Homo sapiens: one gene and its partner. The protein of the gene in region 2 interacts with the protein of the main gene of each other region in a biochemical or structural test. Each region holds a gene or a part of one and is shown on either strand. Other genes may lie near its edges.

Region 1 (6,900 bases), on a different chromosome or scaffold from region 2:
CACATATACCCACCTGTGTAACAAAAATAATCAAAGCAGGTGGGTTTGCAAACACACCTCGTTTGTAAAAAATGCAACAACACAAACACACTGTCCAAACTTTGGGCAGAAAAAACAACATGGGTTTATTTTAAGGTAAGTACAACGATTAAGACCACGTAAGACAAACACAGATGAAGTTAGAGTTTTTAAGCTTTTTTTTTTTTTTTCTTTTAGGAATACTCAGGGTGGAACCTACTATACAAAACCATCACACTTTGTAAATAAAAAGTATCAGATACTTGACTTCTTTATCCACCAACAAAAAAATAAATTATTTTCTTGTTTTGTAAAAGACCTACAATGGGAAAAAGAATTATATCTCATAATTGTACAGGAAACAAAACCCACATCGGTTTCTTGAATTCAATTTGGCAGTTAGAAATGGTTGGGCAAGATGAAAAACTTATCCAGTGAACTCAACTTTAAATATTATATTAATGGCTCTGAACAACAACAACAACAACAAAATAGCCTGATTACAAATCCACACATTTGTACAGCACGGTTGGAGAAATTTAAAATTACACACAGCACATATATTATCTATAGAGACCCCCATACACCTATGGGGACCCCTACAGAAAGTCACTAGGGGCTCGCTATGGGATTTGGTCCATAACTTAACTTTTGAAAGCTCAGGTCGAGCACAGCACAGCCGTCCTGGTAGGGGAGGGGGATTTTAAGATCAATACTCATTTTGTTGGGCTGCGTCCCTTTGGAGGGGTTTCCTGGGATCCCAGAAACGGGGCGGCGAATTAAAGTTACCTGCGCTCTTCACAGACGGCTGGGGGCTAGCGTGCCCGCTCTCTGCTCCCGGGTCTGAGAAAAGGTTGGTGGACATGTTTTGTTTCTTTTTTGCGTCTCTGCAGCCCCTTAATTGTCTGGTTGGGTCGGGGCTGGGAAGCGAAGCCGGAGCGGGCCGGGGAGGGGAGGTCCCGGGACACGTCAGTATTTCGTGCAGTCGTAGGAGTAGGGGGCTGCGTGGCGATAGAGAGGCGGCGTGGATCTGTAGGGCAGCTGGCAGCTGGCATTGCCACTCACCTGGGACTCCCCGAGGGTCGAGTTCTCAATCCCCAGCCGGTGGGAGTTGAACATCTCCCGCACGTTGGGGAAAGTTTGCTGCTGGGCCGCGAACGTGTGGCCGGGGAGGTGGTTCAGGTCCCCGCTGTGGTTGAGATACCAGGAGGCCGCCTGCGCCGCGGCGGCCCCGGGCTGCGGCGTCGGCTGGGGCTGGGGAGCCGGCGGGGGCGGCGGCGCCTGCGGGTGGTGGTGGCCGTGGTGCTGGTGGTGGTGGCCCGTGGCGGCGAGCGCGCCCTCCTGGCCGGCGGCGAGGTTGAGAGCGCTCAGGGGCGACGTGGGGCCGCTCGGGTGGTCCGAGAGGGCCTCGTCCAGGGCGGGCGGGACGCACATGTGCGCCGGCCGCTCGGCCCCGGTGTACAGGCTCATCGCTCGCATGCTGCACTGGTAGCCCCCGGCGGCCCCGGCCTCCAGGCCCTGAGCGCACGGCTGGCCGTAGGCGGCGGGCGGCGCGGCGGCGTAGGGCAGCGCCAGCGGCGGCACCACCAGGCCCGCGCGTCCGGCCCCCGGGCTCAGCTCTCCGCCCGGCGGCGACGTTCGCAGGGTCATGATGTTCTCCACGCTGAAGCCAGGCAGCCCGTTGGGCGCCGCGGCGTGGTGCTCCGGCAGCGAGCCGTCGGGGGAGCCGGCGGGCGTGGAGGCCGCGCTGCGCGGGCTGCCCTGCAGCGCGCTCTCGGGGCTCAGCGTCTCCACCTTGGTGATGACCGGCAGCGCCGGGGACGCCGCCTCGCTCTTGATCACCACCTTCTTCTCGGCCTCCTTGGGGGCGTCCGCTAGGTGGGGGGTGGCCGGGGCGCCCTTGGACGCCGCCGGGGGCGGCTCCTTGAGGTGGGCCCGCTCCTCCTTCTCCTTGGACACGTCCTTCTTTTTGAAGCGCCGCCGGCGCCGCAGGAAGCTGCCGTTCTCGAACATGTTGTAGGAGTCCGGGTCCAGGGTCCAGTAACTGCCCTTGCCGGGCTTCTTGTCGTCGCGGGGCACCTTGACGAAGCACTCGTTGAGCGAGAGGTTGTGGCGGATGCTGTTCTGCCAGCCCTGCTTGTTCTCCCGGTAGAAGGGGAAGCGGTCCATGATGAACTGGTAGATGCCGTTCAAGGTGATCTTCTTCTCGGGCGCGTTCTGGATGGCCATGGTGATGAGCGCGATGTAGCTGTAGGGCGGCTTCACCAGGTCCTTAGGCGCCGCGGGCTGGTGGTGGTGGTAGGGCGCGTAGGAGCGGCCCATCCCCGCGCTGTACTGCTCCGGGTGGCCGGAATAGACGCCCATGGGGCTGGCCATGCCGCCGTAGCTGCCCGCAGCCCGGTAGTAATTCTGCTCGCTCAGGTAGGGCACCACTCCCAGGGCGTTGGGGTCGGACACGGAGTAGCGCGCCTGCATGCTGCTTCCGAGACGGCTCGCCGGCGCCCTCGCGCACGGACTGCGGCCGGGGGAGCGAGGGGGGCCCTGAGAGCGAGAGAGCGCGAGAGAGCCAGAGGGGGAGAGGAGGGGAGCGGGAGGGGCGGCCCCGGGCTCCTGGCAGCCTCCGGGGCGAGGGTGCGCGGGCGGCGGCGCTCGGGCCGAGCAGGGGCGCGCGCTTTCAGCGGACCGGGCGGATCGGCATCCTGGAGGGCGCGCCCCGGGCAAGCGCAGCGCCGGCCCCGCTCCTCGCTGGCTCCAGGACCCGGCGGCGGCAGCGCGGGCAGGCGGGCGGCCGCGGACCCAGCGGAGACGCCGCGGCCTGGGGACCCAGGTGGACCCTCGGCCCGCGCGAGGAGGGGCGCAGGAGGCTCTCCAAGCCCCCAGCGAATCGGCAGCCCCGAGGGTCAGCGCGCCGGGGTCCGAGCGGCTGCCCCGCTGAGCCCAGAAAAAGAGGCCAAGTCCCTTTTAGGGATTGGGAAAAGTTTCAAAAGTCTTCTTGCTGAAAGCGAGTTTTTACTTTCCTCGGGCCACGCCCCCTCCCGGAACTTTGAGCCAATCACCCGGCAGCTGAGAGGAGTCGGCGCCAATCGGGGCGAGGAGCGCAGGAATCCGTCGGCTCTAAGACCCCGCCGCCCCGGCCTCCGCGGCGACTCCGTCTTCACTTGAAAACTTTTTAAAAAGTTATATCTTATTAAAATTTATTTTATGATCACATTTTGGTGAATGGGCCCACATGCCCAAAACAAAAAGATAGCCACTTTCCTCTGTTAAAAAAAATCAATTTGAAATATAAAATAGAATGGATTAATAGAGTAAAATATCTCTCCCAAAGACCTTGTAAGTAGCAATGATCCTGGGACATTTTTCTTATTAATGAGTGATGAAGCGAATAATTAGATTTCCTAATTATGGGGGCCCAGGTGTAATGGATTCAAAGCAAACGCGCTGGATTGGAATGGCAGGGCCTCTCCTGGATGTTATACTTATTTAATCAAATAATTAATCATCAACAGGGAGTTTCCAGGCTCGGGGTCGTCAAGGATAACCTATCGAGGTTTTAGAGGTAAACCCTACAAACTGAGTTTCCCTCGCTCCCCGCCGAGGAGCCAGGCAGCGGAGTGCATAGAGGGGAAGGTAGCAACGTGCTGACTGACAACTTAATCCTCCGAATTCGCGGGGAATTCGGTAGATCATCCGCGTCGCTGCGAGCAGTTTTGTGGGGTTTGGGGAAAAGGGTGAAGTGACTCTGCTATTTCCCCCTTTCGTCTCCCGCGTGGACACTCGCAGCCTACCAACTTCAGCTTCGAAACTCGTCTCCCTTTTCCCAGGTAGAAATTCCCTCTAACAAGCTGACCCCGCACTCCCAGAAGACCGGGACAATGCAGCGACCCACCCGGGCCAGGCAGAGCCGAGTTCCTGGGCCCTGCGAGGAGAAACCCGAGCCTGTTTTCCGCGGGGGCTTGGCTCGAAGGCGCGCGCAATGAGCGCCGCGCACCGCGGGCACCAAGCGTGGACGTTTCCCGTGGCCCAGGCCGGCGCCGGCCGCTAACACCGACCCTAGGGCGCTGTCCCTGCCTCCTGCTCCTGGCAACGTCCCCCTGGGAGCCTCCAAGTTGCTTTTCTATATTTCAGCCTTTTTTTTGTTTTGTTGGGTGGGTAGGGTGAGTTAGGGAGCGCGCTCCGTGGGAAGACTGGGTGAGCGGTTGATTGCAAACGGTTCAAGATCCCTTCGGGATGATATTATTCGGCAGGCAGACCTGGAGCGACTTGGATCTCCTTCAAGGATTTCTCCTTCCCTCTAGGAATCCCGGACAGTTTGTTTATTTGTGGACTGATTATTTATTCCTTCCACACCTCAATAATCAGATCCCCTTTTCCCACTTTCCCTGAAGGAGTGAGACACCCCTTTAACAAGGCTAAACACGGGCAGAATTTTGGAAGTTGCTGGTCTGGTTGGGCAGGGAAGAGGGCTTCAGGGAGAACATTTGTATTTCAGGTTTCCTTGCACCCTTCCTGGCTGTTCATCGGCTGCGTATTCGATTCTCAGCAAAAGGATGTTGAGACAACCCACCAGGCCTCTTCGCTTCGGCCTCTTCGCTTCGGGGAGGCGACTAGAAGGCAATGGGGCGTGCCACTTATTTCCAATAAAAGAACAGAAGACGAAAATGTAGATGCATTATCTTTGTCTCCTGATCAATTCAAAGCCAAAGGGAAGCTACAAATCAGGTTCCTTTACCTTGAATATTCCACTTCTGAAACATTGTTTTTATGAGTATTCTGGGCTCTTTTTCTAACCTGATCCTTTTTCTTCTTTCTTTGAAACAAAGTAAAATAAAGCTGCCCAGTTCTCAGCTCACAGGCAAATGATTTGAGCTTTCTGCCCCAACCCTAAACTCCCACCATGACTTTATTATTTTTAATAAGCTAGTATTTCCGCATCTAGCTTAAAAAAAAAAAAGGACTAGCAAAAAGTGCCCTTCTCCTGCAGCGCATGACAGGCACACTGAGTTCGTGTCACGATTTTACTGGAAATGCAAACTATTGATCAAGAAACACTCCTCAGCCTGTAGGCTTCCTGGAGGAATATTATTTACTCTGCTTTTACGAGGGGTGTGTGTGTGTGTGTGAGAGAGAGAGAGAGAGAGAAACAGCTTTATCACAGCAAAACCTAAAATAGCTAAGGACTATGAAAAAATAAATTCCAAAATGGCAGTTGCTGCCTACGTTTGTATTCACAAGGGTGTCCCGGTTTAAACCAATGTCATCTGGGGAAACAAACAAACAAACAAACAAACACCTAAATCGAGTCGCCCAATATATTATCCACCCTCCCCCGCCCCAAAGAAAGGAAAAGGGGAGGGGAAAGAAATTCGTCTCATCAAGACAGAAAAGGTGAGAGAGACACTTCCCTTTACCCCTGGAATTAGGTTTCTTGTTTGCTCAGTGGGACTCCGGGAAAGATGTTTGTTCAGGTTATTAAAACAACGCCTTCCATACACCTGGACTTTGCAAAAACCGTATTTCCCAGCTTTTCTTTAACCTGCCAGGGTATTTCGGATGGGGGGCTGCTACTTTCTGGCTGATTTTCCCCCTTCTTGACCTTGTAAGTCAGTGAGCCGAACGCGGAATCGGGTCCCAGAGGGCCTCGCGTGTTCCTGGAATAATAAGCGGCGATAAAGCCTAAAGGTATTTAATTCGCCTTCCGCCCCCACCGCGCTGCGCTCCTCCCGGCCCGTGGCCGCTGCACCTGGAGCGGCTGGGCGGACTCCGTGGGTGTTGGCGTCATCTTGAGGCCAACCAGGGAACTACTACGAGAAAAGGAAAAAGAAAAAGACCGCCCGGCCCGCCCTGCTTATCATGAAGGTGCTGACACCTTGTGGATACTCCTGGGCATTGCACGGCTGGAATGGAGCCTTCAGAAATCTGTAAAAGCAGAGAAAGGAGATAAACTGCATCGCGTCGATTAAAAAACATTTCCCGTAACTTCGCAACGTGTCAAGAACATGATCTGTTGGGAAACAAAAATGTCTTTGAAACTGCTCGGGGAGCAAGAAATTTTCTCTAGGGAAACTTGCTGGGGTTTTCCCCAAATAAAATCTATGCCTCTTAGGTGGCTAGAAGTCTGCATTTTCTTCCCCCGGAGTTGTTGAACAAATTGCCTCGTCCATGTTTTCCCGCTGCAGCTGTCTTTCTGCCCGAGGTGTGGCGTGAGCTTCAGGGAATTCATCAGAAAGCTGTTTGTGCTGGTCGTGTGTTTAGAGGGTTGGCTTGAACAAGAGGCAGACTTTGAAACTGGGCAGCAGCCACTTCTACTTTTGAGGTACAACAGAGAACTCAAAGAGGGGACAAGTGAAAGGAGTTTTGTTTCTTGTCTCACTATTTCCCATTCATTCATTTCAATATCCTTCAAACATTTCTTTTCTGGGGTCACGAGGTGCCTTGGTTTTGAGGAAAGGGATCGGGTGGCAGAGGAGTCCCAGGCTTCCAGAAGCTGCCTGAGAACCGAGGAGCCCTTGGGTTACACAAAGTCGGCGCCACCTCCTAAAAATCCATTGTAATCCGGCTTCTAAACTTTTGTGGGACAAAAAAAGTGTCTTTTCTAAAACTCAGTTCAAGCTCATTTTACTGTGTGTGAGTTTTCCGGTGAGTGAAAGCCATGCTGCGCCATCGACAAAGGGCAGGGCCAGAAAGGACTACAGAAGCGGGTGGGTAGTGAGAACTGCTGTTGGTCACAAGGATTAAAGAAACTCAACAAGTAAACGCAACCCTCAATCCTAGGCGGAAGAAATTTTTTTTTCTTTTTTCTTTTTTTCCTGTTGTTGTTGAGACGGAGTCTTGCTCTGTCGCCCACGCTGGAGTGCAGTGGCACGATCTCCGCTCACTGCA
Region 2 (8,412 bases):
TGAAAGAGAATATTATAAAAATTAATATGTTGGTAGAGCAGCATTTCCCAGAGTAGGTTCCATGAGAAATAAGTTCCATAGAATATCAATGAGCGTTCCTTAGAGAAAATATTACCTGGTCAAATGTGTGTAAACAAAGCTAAGAATGCTTTGCGAGATTCTCATAGCTTCAATGTCCTGAAGAGCACTGGGAACTCCAGGAATGGGATGTAGTGCCTAGTATTCTCTAAACTCATTTGCCCAGGAAGTTCTTCTTTGGTGGAGCACTCCGTGGGATTAGTATTTCGTAGGATGGCCTTTAGAAACTGCCATACTATGGTATTCAGTGCTGATTTTGTTTTTGTGCTGGTGCAGCTTGCATCTCTGTCCTCTTCTTCAAGTGATCTGCACATCAATTTGGTGGTGACCTTTCTGGGGCATGAAAATCAAATTTTCAGGCCTACTAATTAGTTATCCCCTTTGTCCCCATCTCTTAAAAATAAGATTTTAGGCCAGGTGCCATAGCTCATACCTATAATCCCAGCACTTAGGGAGGCTGAGGTGAGAGGATCACTTGAGGCTTGGAGTTTGAGACCAGCCTGGGCAAAATAGCGAGACCCCATCTCTGCAAAAAAATAAATTAGCCAGGTAAGGTGGCATGCACCTGTAGTCCCAGCTACTTGAGAGGCTAAGGTGGGGGGACTGCTTGAGCCCAGGAGGCCGAGGATGCAGAAAGCCATGATTGCATCACTGCACTCCAGCCTGGAGAGAGCAAGACCCAGTCTCAAAAGAGAGAAAAAAAGAAGGAAAGATGAAAGAAAAGAAAGAAAGAAAGAAGGGAAGGAGGGAGGGAAGGAGGGAGGAAGGGAAGGAAGGAAGGAAAGAAGGAAGGAAGAAAGGAAGGAAAGTAGACTACCATTTCCTAATTTTTAGTCACCTTCTAGTCCTCTACGATCTTTTTAAACTGGCAAATAATATTGCTTTAGTAAGTTTTCTAGTACCTGGAGGTTAAAATTCTTGAAATTTTCATAACTCTTACATTTAAATCATTTTCATTCCTCCTTTCTTCTCACACTCAACTAATATTTATTGAGCACATGTATGGTGCCAGGCACTATTCTAAGCCCTGGGGGCATACTGTAAATAAGACAAGACCCCAAGAAGCTTGTGTTCTTGAGACTGACTCTCCTTGATATTGTTTCATTTATCACCCAAGCATCTTGGATGTTCTGAACCCCAGTTCCTTATCACTTTTTTATACATATTAGTAGGTGAATATTACCCCATAAAGTTAATTTTCAAAGACTATTGAGATCAACACCTTAATGGAGGTGTTAAAATGATGGAACTTCAGACATTAAGGCTTGTAATGAATGGGGAAGTTATTTCATGGAAGATAAGCCTCTGGACATGTGCTTGGAATCACTTAAAACAAACCGGACAGAAGATGGCCAAATAGGAACAGCTCCGGTCTACAGCGCCCAGCATGATCGACACAGAAGACAGGTGATTTCTGCATTTCCAACTGAGGTAACTGGTTCACCTCACCAGGACTGGTCGGAAAGTGAGTGCAGCCCATGGAGGGTGAGCTGAAGCAGGGCAGGGCGTTGCCTCACCCAGGAAGCACAAGGGGTCGGGGGATTTCCCTTTCCTAGCTAAGGGATGCCATGACAGACTACCTGGAAAAACAGGACACTCACACCCAAATACTGTGCTTTTCCCAAGCTCTTAGCAACCTGCAGACAAGGTGATCCTCTCCCGTGCCTGGCTCGGTGGGTCCCATGCCCAAGGAGCCTTGCTCACTGCTAGCGCAGCAGTCTGAGATTGATCTGCGAGGCCGCAGCCTCGCTGGGGGTGGGGTGTCCACCATTGCTGAGGCTTGAGTAGGTAAACAAAGTAGCCAGGAAGCTTGAACTGGGCGGAGCCCACCATAGCTCAACAAGGCCTACTGCCTCTAGACTCCACCTCTGTGAGCAGGGCATAGGTGAACAAAAGGCAGCAAACAACTTCTGCAGACTTAAACATCCCTGTCTGACAGCTCTGAAGAGAGCAGTGGTTCTCCCAGCACAGCGTTTGAGCTCTGAGAATGGACAGACTGCCCCCTCAAGTGGGTCCCTGACCCCCGTGTAGTGTAACTGGGAGACACCTCCCAGTAGGGGCCAACAGACACCTCATATAGGCGGCTGCCCCCCTGGGATGAAGCTTTCAGAGGAAGCATCAGGCAGCAATATTTGCTGTTCTGCAGCCTCCGCTGGTGATACCCAGGCAAACGGGGTCTGGAGTGGAACTCTAGCAAACTCCAACAGATCTGCGGCTGAGGGACCTGACTGTTAGATGGAAAACTAACAAACAGAAAGGAATAGCATCAACATCAACAAAAAGGTCATCTATGCCAAAACCACATCTGTAGGTCACCAACATTAAAGACCAAAGGTAGATAAAACCACAAAGATGGGGAGAAACCAGAGCAGAAAGCTGAACATTCTAAAAATCAGAGCGCCTCTTCTAAACCAAAAGGTTGCAGCTCCTTGCCAGCAATGAAACAAAGCTGGATGGAGAATGACTTTGAGGACTTGACAGAAGTAGGCTTCAGAAAGTCAGTAATAACAAACTCCTCCAAGCTAAAGGAGGATGTTCGAACCCATCGCAAGGAAGCTTAAAACCTTTAAAAAAGATTAGACGAATGGCTAACTAGAATAAACAGTATAGAGAAGACCTTAAATGACCTGATGGAGCTGAAAACCATGGCACAAGAACTTCATGACGCATGTGCAAGCTTCAATAGCCAATTCAATCAAGTGGAAGAAAGAGTATCAGTGACTGAAGATCAAATTAATGAAATAAAGTGAGAAGACAAGGTTAGAGAAAAAAGAGTAAAAAGAAACGAACAAAGCCTCCAAGAAATATGGGACTATGTGAAAAGACCAAATCTATGTTTGGATTGGTGTTGGGAGCAGGCCCCTCAAAATCTGGCCATAAACTGGCCCCAAAACTGGCCATAAACAAAATCTCTGCAGCACTGTAACATGTTCATAATGGCCCTAACGCCCAAGCTGGAAGGTTGTGTGTCTACGGGAATGAAGGCAAGGAACACCTGGCCTGCCCAGGGAGGAAAACCGCTTAAAGGCATTCTTAAGCCACAAACAATAGCATGAGCGATCTGTGCCTTAAGGACATTCTCCTGCTGCAGTTAACTAGCCCAACCTATTCCTTTCATTCGGCCATCCCTTTGTTTCCCATAAGGGATACTTTTAGTTAATTTAATATCTATAGAAACAATGCTAATGACTGGCTTGCTGTTAATAAAAACATGGGTAAATCTCTGTTCCGGGATCTCAGCTCTGAAAGCTGTGAGACCCCTGATTTCCCACTTCAAACCTCTATATTTCTGTGTGTGTGTCTTTAAATTCCTTTAGCACCACTGGGTAAAGGTCTCCCTGACCGAGCTGGTCTTGGCAGATTTGTGTACCTGAAAGTGATGGGGAGAATGGACCAAGTTGCAAAACACTCTTCAGGATATTATCCAGGAGAACTTCCCCAATCTAGCAAGGCAGGCCAACATTTAAATTCAGGAAATACAGAGAACACCACAAAGATACTCCTTGAGAAAAGCAACCCCAAGACACATAATTGTCAGATTCACCAAGGTTGAAATGAAGGAAAAAGTGTTAAGGGCAGCCAGAGAGAAAGGTCGAGTTACCCACAAAAGGAAGCCCATTAGACTAACAGTGGATCTCTTGGCAGAAATCCTATAAGCTAGAAGAGAGTGGGGGCCTACATTCAACATTCTTAAAGAAAATAATTTTCAACCCAGAATTTCATATCCAGCCAAACTAAGCTTCGTAAGGGAAGGAGAAATAAAATCCTTTACAGACAAGCAAAATGCTGAGAGATTTTATCACCACCAGGCCTGCCTTACAAGGGCTCCTGAAGGAAGCACTAAACATGGAAAGAAACAACCAGTACCAGCCACTGCAAAAACATGCCAAATTGTAAAGACCCTTGATGCTATGAAGAAACTACATCAATTAATGGGCAAAATAACCAGCAAACATCATAATGACAGGATCAAATTCACATATAACAATATTAACCTTAAATGTAAGTGGGCTAAATGCTCCAATTAAAAGACACAGACTGGCAAATTGGATAAAGAGTCAAGACCCATCGGTGTGCTGTATTCAGAGACCCATCTGATGTGCAAAGATTCACATAGGCTCAAAATAAAGGAATGGAGAAAGATCTACCAAGGAAATGGAAAGCGAAAAAAAGCAGGGGTTGCAATCCTAGTCTCTGATAAAACAGACTTTAAGATCAGAAGGGACAAAGAAGGCCATTACATAATGGTAAAGGGATCAATTCAACAAGAAGAGCTAACTATCCTAAATATATATGCACCCAATACAGGAGCACCCAGATTCAGAAAGCAAGTTCTTAGATACCTACAAAGAGACTTAGATTCCCATGCAATAATAATGGGAAAATTTAACACCCTGCTCTCAGCATTAGACAGATCAATGACACAGAAAGTTAACAAGGATATCCAGGACCAGAACTCAGCTCTGCAACAAGCAGACCTAATAGGCATCTACAGAACTCTCCACCCCAAATCAACAGAATATATATTCTTCTCAGCACCACATCATATTTATTCTAAAATTGACCACATAATTGGAAGTAAAGCACTCCTCAGCAAATGTAAAAGAACAGAAATCACAACAAACTGTCTCTCAGACCACAGTGCAATCAAATTAGAACTCAGGATTAAGAAACTCACTCAAAACCACACAACTACATGGAAACTGAACAACTTGCTCCTGAATGACTACTGGGTAAATCACGAAATGAAGGCAGAAATACAGATGTTCTTTGAAACCAATGAGAACAAAGACACAACATACCAGAATCTCTGGGACGCATTTAAAGCAGGATGTAGAGGAAAATTTATAGCACTAAATGCCCACAAGAGAAACCAGGAAAGATCTAAAATTGACACCCTAACATCACAATTAAAAGAACTAGAGAAGCAAGAGCAAACAAATTCAAAAGCTAGCAGAAGACAAGAAATAACTAAGATCAGAGCAGAACTGAAAGAGATAGAGACAGAAAAAAACCCTTTAAAAAATCAATGAATCCAGGAGCTGGTTTTTTGAAAAGATTAACAAAATAGACCGCTAGCAAGACTAATAAAGAAGAAAAGAGAGTAGATTCAAATAGATGCAATAAAAAATGATAAAGAGGATATCACCACCTATCTCACAGAAATACAAACTACCATCAGAGAATACTGTAAGCACCTCTACACAAATAAAGTAGAAAATCTAGAAGAAATGGATAAATTCCTGGACACATACACCCTCCCAAGACTAAACCAGGAAGAAGTCAAATCTCTGAATAGACCAATAACAGGCTCTGAAATTGAGGCAATAAATAATAGCCTACCAACCAAAAAAAGTCCAGGACCAGATGAATTCACAGCCGAATCCTACCAGAGGTACAAAGAGGAGCTGGTACCATTCCTTCTGAAACTCTTCCAATCAATAGAAAAAGAGGGAATCCTCCCTAACTCATTTTATGAGGACAACATAATCCTGATACCAAAGCCTGGCAGAGACACAACAAAAAAAGAGAATTTTAGACCAATATCCCTGATGAACATCGATGCAAAAATCCTCAATAAAATACTGGCAAATGAATCCAGCAGCACATCCACCACGATCAAGTTGGCTTCATCCCTGGGATGCAAGGCTGGTTCAACATATGCAAATCAATAAATGTAACCCATCACATAAACAGAACCAACAACAAAAACCACATGATTATCTCAATAGATGCAGAAAAGGCCTTTGACAAAATTCAACAGCCCTTCATGCTAAAAACTCTCAATGAACTAGGTATTGATGGAACATATCTCAAAATAATAAGAGCTATTTAGGACAAACCCACAGCCAATATCATACTGAATGGGCAAAAACTGGAAGCATTCCCTTTGAAAACCAGCACAAGACAAGGAAGCCCTCTCTCACCACCCTATTCGACATAGTGTTGGAAGTTCTGGCCAGGGCAATCAGGCAACAGAAAGAAATAAAGGGTATTCAGTTAGGAAAAGAGGAAGTCAAATTGTCCCTGTTTGCAGATGACAAGATTGTATATTTAGAAAACCCCATCATCTCAGCCCAAAATCTCCTTAAGCTGATAAGCAACTTCAGCAAAGTCTCAGGATACAAAATTAATGTGCAAAAATCACAAGCATTCCTATACACCATTATCAGAAAAACAGAGAGCCAAATCATGAGTGAACTCCCATTCACAATTGCTACAAAGAGAATAAAATACCTAGGAATCCAACTTACAAGGGACGTGAAGGACCTCCTCAAGGAGAACTGTAAGCCACTGCTCAACTAAATAAAAGAGGATAGAAACAAATGGGAGAACATTCCATGCTCATAGATAGGAAGAATCAATATCATGAAAATGGCCATACTGCCCAAAGTAATTTATAGATTCAATGCCATCCCCATCAAGCTACCAATGACTTTCTTCACAGAACTTGAAAAAACTACTTTAAAGTTCATATGGAACCAAAAAAAGAGCCCACATTGTCAAGACAATCCTAAGCAAAAGGAACAAAGCTGGAGGCATCACACTACCTGACTTCAAACTATACTACAAGGCTACAGTAACCAAAACAGCATGGTATTGCTACCAAAACAGAGGTATAGACCAATGGAACAGAACAGAGGCCTCAGAAATAACACAACACATCTACAACCATCTGATCTTTGACAAACCCAACAAAAACAAGCAATGGGGAAAGGATTCCCTATTTAATAAATCGTGCTGGGAAAACTGGCTACCCAAACATAGAAAGCTGAAACTGGATCCCTTCCTTACACCTTACACAAAAATTGATTCAAGATGGTTTAAAGACATAAATGTTAGACCTAAAACCATAAAAACCCTAGAAGAAAACCTAGGCAATACCGTTCAGAACATAGGCATGGACAAGGACTTCATGACTAAAACACCAAAAGCAATGGCAACAAAAGCCAAAATAGACAAATGGGATCTAATTAAACTAAAGAGCTTCTGCACAGCAAAAGAAACTATCAGCAGAGTGAACAGGCAACCTACAGAATGGGAGAAGATTTTTGCAATCTACCCATCTGACAAAGGGCTAATATCCAGAATCTACAAAGAACTCAAACAAATTTACAAGAAAAAAACAACCCCATCAAAAAGTGGGTGAAGGATATGAACAGACACTTCTCAAAAGAAGACATCTATGCAGCCAACAGACACATGAAAAAATACTCATCATCACTGGTCATCAGAGAAATGCAAATCAAAACCACAATGAGATACCATCTAATGCCAGTTAGAATGGCAATCATTAAAAAGTCAGGAAACAACAGATGCTAGAGAGGATGTGGAGAAATAGGAACGCTTTTACACTGTTGGTGGGAGTGTAAATTAGTTCAACCATTGTGGAAGACAGTGTGGCAATTCCTCAAGGATCTAGAACTAGAATTACCATTTGACCCAGCAATCCCATTACTGGGTATATACCCAAAGGATTATAAATCATGCTACTATAAAGACACATGCACACGTATGTTTATTGAGGCACTATTCAGAAGAGCAAAGACTTGGAACCCAAATGTCCATCAATAATAGACTGGATTAAGAAAATGTAGCACATATACACCATGGAATACTATGCAGCCATAAAAAAGGATGAGTTCATGTCCTTTGTAGGGACATGGATGAAGCCGGAAACCATCATTCTCAGCAAACTATCACAAGGACAGAAAAGCAAACACCACATGTTTTCACTCATAGATGGGAAATGAACAATGAGATCACTTGGACACAGGGCGGTGAACATCACACACTGGGGCCTGTCGGGGGGTGGGGAGCTGGGGGAGGGATAGCATTAGGAGAAATACCTAATATAAATGATGAATTGATGGGTGCAGCAAACCAACATGGCACATGTATACCTATGTAACAAACCTGCACGTTGTGCACATGTACCCTAGAACTTAAAGTATAAAAACAAAAAACAACAACAAAAACAAACAGACACATGTAAAGTAAAGCTCAGTGCTTTTTATGTGTATGTGTTATTTTATCCTTCTGCCAGAGATAGGTGATATAGCTCATGAACTAGTTATTATGGGATAGTCATGAGATGTTAGCATCCTCATAATATAGTGAAGAAACTGAGGCGTGAAAAGGTCATACGCCTTGCCTAAGGTCATCTGGATATGAAACAGTAGAGCCAGAACTGGAATCCAGACCTTCTTCACAAATTTTGTGCCTGTTCCAGTATACCCCCACTCCCTTTCTTTTTTATTTTATTTTTGAGACAAGATCTAGCTCTGTCACCCAGGCTGGAGTACAGTGGTGCAGTCATAACTCACTGCAGCG

What was found.
Region 1: the proteins of NPHS2 (region 2) and FOXC2 form a complex in vitro, tested with the Homo sapiens proteins (one study listed by BioGRID).

Annotation. Positions count from the first base shown.
Region 1 is NC_000016.10:86,562,929-86,569,828, reverse strand, and holds FOXC2 (forkhead box protein C2), read right to left. Parts: upstream 3,001-6,900; 5' UTR 2,494-3,000; coding exon 988-2,493; 3' UTR 101-987; downstream 1-100. UniProt on the Homo sapiens protein: Transcriptional activator.
Region 2 is NC_000001.11:179,565,209-179,573,620, reverse strand, and holds part of NPHS2 (podocin), read left to right. Parts: intron 1-8,412. UniProt on the Homo sapiens protein: Plays a role in the regulation of glomerular permeability, acting probably as a linker between the plasma membrane and the cytoskeleton.